Linked DNA regions of Homo sapiens. The protein of the gene in region 2 interacts with the protein of the main gene of each other region in a pairwise test. Each region holds a gene or a part of one and is shown on either strand. Other genes may lie near its edges.

Region 1 (3,832 bases), on a different chromosome or scaffold from region 2:
GCTGTCAGCGGGGTTTTGAAGTCCTCCCTTATTATTGTATAGCTGTCTATCTCTTTTATTAGGTTGAGTAGTATTTGTTTTATAAATCTGAGTTGTCCATTTTGGGATGCATATATATTTAAGACAGCTATATCTTCTCCTTGTATTGAACCCTTTATTATTATATAATACATTCTTTGTCTTTTTACTGTTGTTGATTTAAAATCTGCTTTATCTGATGTAAATATAGCTACTACTGCTCATTTTTGTTTTGTGTTTGCACAGTGTATCTTTTTCCACTCCATTGAGTTTGTGGGTGTTTTTACCAAAGGGTGTCACTTGTGGGCAGAAAACGATCAGGTTTTGTTTTTTAATCCAATTTGCCTGTCTATATGTTTAAGTGGAGGATTTAGGCCATTTATGTTCAGGGTTAATATTGATATATGAGGGTTTGTTTCCGTCATAATATTGTTACCTAGTTGCTTTGTTGTCTCAATTTACACTACGATTTTTATATCTACATTTATAAATGAAATTAGCCTGTAATTTTTCTTTTCCATACTGTCCTTGTCAGGTGTTAGTATCAAGGGTATGCTGCCTCAAAAAATGAGTTGGGAAGTGTACTGAGTTGAATAGTGTTTACCCAGAAGCTGTGAGTGTGACATTTGGAAAGAAGGTCTTCGCAGATGTTATCAAATTAAGATGAGGTCATGCTGAGTTAGGGTGGGCCTATAGAAGATCAGGAAAATTTAGACATGGAGGAAAGAAAGCCATGTGATTAAAGTGAGACTGGAGTGATGCATCCATAGGCCAAGGATTGCTAGAAACCATAAGAAGCTAGAAGAGGCAAGGAAGGATTCTTCCCTAAAGAAAACAGAAGAAGAATGACCCTGCTGATATCTTGATTACAAACTTCTATCCTCCAGAGCAATGAGAGAATAGATTTCTGTTGTTTTAAGCCACTTGGTTTGTGGCAATTTGTTATGGTGCTCTAAGAAACTAATAGAGAAAGTGGCCCCACTTTTTTGATTCTCTGAAATGTTTATGTAAAATTGGAATATTTTCCTTGACTTTACAGTAGACCTTGCCAGTGGAGTCTTCAGGGTCAAGTATTTACTTGGTGAGATTTCTGATTACTGATTGAATTTCTTTAATGATTACAGAACTATTTGGGTTTTCTATTTCTTCTTGAGTTAATTTTGAGAAGCTATTTTTTTTACATGTTCATAATATTTTCATTATCTTTCTTTTTTCACTGTTACAATAACTTTAATTTATCTTGTATTTTACAGAAGTCTATGAACGATTTTAAAAAAGCACCTCTTTACCCCATATCATGTTTCTCTGACAGTTGTTAAAGTAGTCTATACATATGTCAACAGCTTGAGCATCAGCATCTTGCAAGGATTTCACACCAACCAGCCACTAGCCAAAGAACTTGGCAGCTTTTTTATCTTGCTTTTAATACAATGGTATATCCACTCTGATGGCAAACTGGTTTAGCCACATATCCACAACACGCTTTGAAAAATCAGTGATTAGCAAATTAGTTAGCTTTGGCACAGGGCTGTGCTCGCTTGCCCATGACAGTCTGGAAGCCAGTTTTGATACTGGCAACAGAACATCTAGAATGACAAGTTTCACACTGTAGGAAATAAGAGTTGCATGTCCTTCTGCAGGATTGTGTCCAGTGATCAGCATGTGTGACAAGTGACATACTCCTTGATAAATCTTAAGACATTTTCTATCTGTTTTTGTTGGAATCTTCCTTTACAAGTTGGTTATTACCATCTATAGAACCACTTGTACCCAATTCAACCAACAAAAATGCAAGTGTGCTGACAATATAATAGTTTACAGATATCTGTAAAGTTGACAGAAGAAGTTTTCTTGGTTCCTACTCAGACGACCTGTGGAGGTTGCATAACGAATTTCTTTTTCTCCCCAGCAACCATATCTGGATTCTTTTCCCTCATGATGTTGAACACACAATTCAGCAGCTCCTCTTATGTGTAGTCTCCTTCTGAGCCTGCCCAAGCAGGGCCTGTCTGATTACTGAATGAGATACCATCATCTTTTTTGCTATCTTCATCTTCTAGAGCTTCATCTTTCTCTAGTAGTTCATCCTCATCTGGGAACTTGACATTCTTCTTTTTCTTCTTTTTATTCCAAGCATAATGTCAAGGTCATCCTCTGGTTCAGCTGGTTCTTGAACATCACTTTCAATCTTAAGATCCTTTACAACTTCTTCAGCTTCATCAATATCAAATATCTTTTTTGTTTTTTTTTCTTTTTCTTTTGATTAAAGAAGTTCAAGTCATCTAGATCATCAGAAGCATCGTTTTTCCTACTGTCCTCATTGTCAGCTTCCAAATCTTTGTCCTCAGTTGGCTCTGGCTCCAGACTTTTGTTTCTGAGGGCTGCGTTTCCTGTTTGAGTATCCCCTTCCTCATCTAACATAAAAGGCTTCTTCTTCTTCTTTTCTTCTTGCTCACAGTAGGATCAAAAATCATCTCATCTCCAGATATGGATGCGATTCCAGTGGGCTCCGCATGGATGGGAAGTCAGACAGGTCAGCCCCCAGGCCCCGTGGCAGCGCTGCTCCTGCTGATACCTCTCCCACCACCGCACTAGGCTCTTGCATCAGCCAAAGGGCCATTATCTTTCTTAAAGGCTACAGTATCTGCAATGATATCCCTTTCATCATTCTTTATATGCATTGCTTGGTGCCTTCTCTTCTCCTTCAATCTCTCCAGAGTTTGTCAATTGTATTAGTCTCAAAAAACTAACATTGTTGTTCCTCTTGATTCAAATGTTTTCTATTTCATTAATTTCTCCTCTTTATTATTTCCTTTCTTCTACTTGATTAGGGTGTATTTTACGGTTAGTTTGTCAGTTCCTTTACATAAATACTTAACTCATTATATTTCAGCCATTTTTCTTTTCTAATATATATTTTTAAAGCTATAAATTTTCTGATAAGTTTTACTTTAGCTGCATCCCTCAAGTTTTATATTATGTTTTCATTGCCATTCAGTTCCAAATTTTTTCTAAATTCCATTATTTCTGTTTTTACTCAGAGGATATTGGAAATTAACTTCCAAACATATGAGAATTACTAGTTATATTTTTGTTATTGATTTCTAGCTTAATTGCATTGTTGTCAGATAATGTATTCTTAATGAAATTTATTTAGATAAGATTTTATAATTCAGTATCTGGTCAATTTTTGTAAATGTTCCAGATGTATTTCAGAAGAATGTATATTCTCCCATTTTGGGGTGCATTGTTCTATGTAAATGTATTAAGTCAAGTTTCATAATCCCTAATACTTTTTTAGAAGAATAATTTTTTCTGCCTCCAAACTCTAATTACATTCTCTCATCTACCTTCTTTCTTACAAAGAAATATCAAGTTCTTTATCATTCTGAGCACTCTTCCCATGCATCATCGTCATCATCTTGGGTGACAAACCTTAAATTTCCAAACAGTGAGTAAGCCATTTAATAACTGGTTAAGGTTTGGGACATTATATTAATCTCTCCCAGGCTCAAAATCTCTTCTTACCTGTAAATGAGGATTGTAGGACTAACTGAGAATTAACATATAACATGTTTAAAAATACTATTATTTTTATTATTATTATTTAATAAATAACCTACATGGTACTGGCATATAACAGGCAAGATAAATGGTAATATTATAATGATTCACATTTTTATATTTATTTATTGCCATGATTCTAACATCTGTGTCTTTTCAGACTACCATTAACACATATTAAATTTCTCTGGCTACAGTAAGGTTGAATAGGCCCCCATATCCATGTGACTTTTGTCAAAGGGTATAATGT
Region 2 (3,832 bases):
ATCAATGAGCCCTGTCTTCTAGTTTCTAATATGCTTTTTCTTATCTGTTATAGACTGGAAACTTCCAAAATGTTTGAAATAAGTCAGTGTTAAGAGTAAATAGACATCAAATGAATGCCTTAGGTACTTTCTGTCGTGAGAGAAGTGTATAAACTTTATTTTATTGATGGTCATTCATATGTTGTTTGTCTAGATGCCTTTGTTGCATATTTCCTGGAACACTATCTTTCGTTTGAATTCTGCCAATTAGTTTGAGAAAATTTTTGTTACATTGGTATATGTTAAGTTGAGGTTTTGAATAATTTTAGTATAATTATAAATGTATTTTAAATAGTGCTTATTTGATTTTGAAATACTTGAAAAATGATGAATTTTAAACTATTTTGTTTGTATGAAAGGCTGAAAAACAATCAGCTAATTTACGGGCAGAACGTTTGGAAAAAGAGCTACAATCAAGCAGTGAACAAAATACCTTTTTAATTAATAAATTGCATAAAGCTGAACGAGAAATAAATACATTGTCCAGTAAAGTAAGTTGTTTTATGTTTCTGTTTCATTCTTTAGAATGTTTGTTAGTATATAATGATAAATTTTATTTTTAATAATTGATTTCTTTATACTGAAATGTTTTATTATATCATTCTGCCTTCTAAGAAATAAATACATTGATCAGTAGAGTATGTTATCTTATGCCTCTATTTCATTCTTTAGAATGCTTGATACTGTACAGTGACAAATTTTGTGTTTAGTTCTCTGTATTGAAATATTTTTAATCCTTTATCATTCTACCTTCCAAATACATGCAGAATCTGATCAATTCTTATGACATCCACTGTGACTATTCCAGTCCAAGCCATGATTTTTCTAGGCTCCATTTCTGTGCTAGGTTGCTAACTGGTCTTTCTGCTTTCTACCCATTCAGAGCTCTGTATGATCTGGATCCTGCAGTCTTTTCACAGCCATGACCTGTATTTTTCCTCCTGTTCACTTTGCTCCCTTTGGCCTTCTCACTCTTTGAGCAAACTCACATCTTGCTCAGGGTTTCTGCACTTGTCTGAGTTTGGCTCAGTCTTCCCTCACGTATCCACATAACTTGCTTCTTCACCACCTAGATGTTGCCTAACCAGGGAGGCTTTCCTTGTCTTCACATTGTAAAACAGCATCTTCCTTCTTCCTCTGTCTTTCTCTCTGTCTTCCTTACCTGCTTCATAGCTCTTAATACTATCTGATATAGTTATTTGGTTTTTATTTTTTGGTCTCTCCTTTTCTTTCCCACCACCTTCCCCTCAACCCAATGTAAGCTCCAAGAGAGCAGGGACATTGTTTTCATCACTACTGCTTTTCCAGCTTCTAGAATGGTGCCGGCACATAGTAGGTACTCAAATATTTCTTCAATGAATAAATTAGTAGTAGCAGCATGATCTACATTTATATTCTCCTTAACAGACTGGATTCAAATTCTGATTTTTTCATTACTAAAAAAAGCTGTGTGACCTTGGGCAGTTCACTGTCTCTCTGAAACTTAAGTGCCTTTGTCTATGCAATGGGACTAATACCTACATTACAGAGTTGTGGCAAAAATTAAATGTAGCTGATGATGAAAATGATAATAGCAGTGATTATACACTGGTGATATCCTTAAATAAGAAAATATTGTAACATAAAGAATACAGAATTTTTAGTCCATTGACTAGTCTGTGTCTCACTGTCTCAATAACTATGTGTAACCTAAGGCAAGTTACCTAATATCATTAGGATCCAATTTCCTTATATCTGTAAGAACCCTTCCAGCCTACTAAGACTGTGTAAGAACTACTAGGAAATAATTTGATTGCCTCCTGATTAACTGTAAGTAGATTATATATTCAACAGATACACATTGAAAGCTTATAACTATAGAGTATACAAAAAAATAGATACAAAACACAAGTAAATTCAGGATATGGGGAGTTTCCATGCTTTTCTTCCAATTCCAGTATAAATTATTTTCAATTTTGTGAAATAATATTGAGTACGTAGTATTTGCAGCACATTGTTCTTGACCTGAGTAGCCAGACTACACTGCTGGAATAATTGGAACCACAGATGTCGCAATAGGACATGGGATGTGCTGGCTTCTGCTGTGGCTTCTCTCTTGGGGGGGCCACCAAGTATAATACTTTTCATGCAGTACATTTTACCTGAGCTCCCTAGCTCACCTGTGTGCTGACCCTGATTTTTCTTCTTTTTTTCCATATATATATACTCTTCCCTATTGCTCTTTCCTCTTAGAGTTAGAGCCTAGGTGATTTCTCCTACTCCGCTGAAGAAAGAACAGCAATCTAGTATAGTATTTATTTCTCTGTGCTTGTTTATTAATACACATTGCTAAGAGTTGCCTGTCTTTTTAAAGGCACACTTGCCTTATTTTGCATATAAATGGAGTATTAAATACCATCCTTCAACTTTAAACAAACCAAGTTTCATTTGAAGTCTTGTATGTAAAGATTCCATTGGAAGGGTAGATTTTAAAATAATATTTCAAACATGACTGCCACAGTTTTCTTTGCAACTTGAAGTTTTCATCAACATTTTGCAATTCTAGCAAATGGTTGTTTGCAGTGCAAAGGAACACCTGGGGTGTGTTTGTCTTAGTTACTCAAATTCATAAATGTTTGTCAGATTTTAGAACAAAGTTATGTCAGTGTGAGTATCAGTGTCTTGGATTAAAAGGTATTACCAAAGATGGCCTGAAAATGATGACCTTAAAGAGATTTCACATTCAGTGAGGTAAATTCTTCTAGTTCCCTCATAAGGTTTTTCATTTTCAGAATGCCAATAAAAGGTAGTTTTAAGAAAGCCACCCAACAGAGTTGTCCTTATTTACCTAAATTAATTGGGTAATTACATCTCAGAACTTTGAAAAAGATCAAGATTTAAGTACCATCTCTTTGGAATCTGTATCCAGAGCTTCTTAGGTAATACATATTGTCAATTATATTTCCATTTCTTGCTTATTTATGCTGTGCTCTTGTGTGTCTTTCTGTGAGTATGTGTACTTTAACAGATACTGACCCCCTGTAAAATGCCCAGTTTTGCCAGTTTTGACATTTATTAAAGTTTTGTTAGTAATATCTGAATACTTCCATTGTGTCAAAACATAAAGCAAATTCACAACATAAAGGCCAGAATCTATATGGCAAACATTCTGTGAAGAACAGGGTGACTTGGTCCAGTGGAGCTTTAGGAGACCATGAATTGCTTGAAATTTTATGCAACATTTTAACATGAGCATTTTATTTAAAAAAAAAATCCCTAATTTTCCTAGGATTTGGGACTTGATCACAAAGAAGATTAAGAACCAAGGATCTAGGGGCAGAAAGAAACTTTACTGTAACATTTGGAATTTGGTTCAGATTACTCATAGAAAAGTGCTATTATTTGTCATTACTGGGTAATACATTTTCATACGTTAAGTAAAATTCCTTTTAGTATATTTTTAGGAAATTAACAGTGTTCATATAAGTGATGCATCAGTGATGTTAGGATAATAGAAATAAGGCAATAAAGAAAAACTTTAGATCCATAAATGAGTACATTTGAATGCAGAGAGGACAGGTAAATTGCTTGAGCATATACCACTGGTTTAACAGCAAAAGTAGGCCTGAAGACAGACCTCACTTGTTGCTTGACTTCCTATTCGGTGTTCTTTCAGTTTCAATAATTGTAGTTTAGTTAAAAATGTCGTCTCATTTCAGTAAATTTCAGGGTGAAATGAATAAGAAATAAGTTTTTGTAGATCTTTTACCATGAGATGAATCAACTTCCTATGAAATAAGATGGCTCTAATTTT

Evidence for each region.
Region 1: the proteins of CEP83 (region 2) and EHHADH interact in binary tests that used the Homo sapiens proteins (3 or more experiments, as listed by UniProt).

Annotation. Positions count from the first base shown.
Region 1 is NC_000003.12:185,243,935-185,247,766, forward strand, and holds part of EHHADH (peroxisomal bifunctional enzyme), read right to left. Parts: intron 1-3,832. UniProt on the Homo sapiens protein: Peroxisomal trifunctional enzyme possessing 2-enoyl-CoA hydratase, 3-hydroxyacyl-CoA dehydrogenase, and delta 3, delta 2-enoyl-CoA isomerase activities. Catalyzes two of the four reactions of the long chain fatty acids peroxisomal beta-oxidation pathway.
Region 2 is NC_000012.12:94,372,584-94,376,415, reverse strand, and holds part of CEP83 (centrosomal protein of 83 kDa), read left to right. Parts: intron 1-398; coding exon 399-530; intron 531-3,832. UniProt on the Homo sapiens protein: Component of the distal appendage region of the centriole involved in the initiation of primary cilium assembly.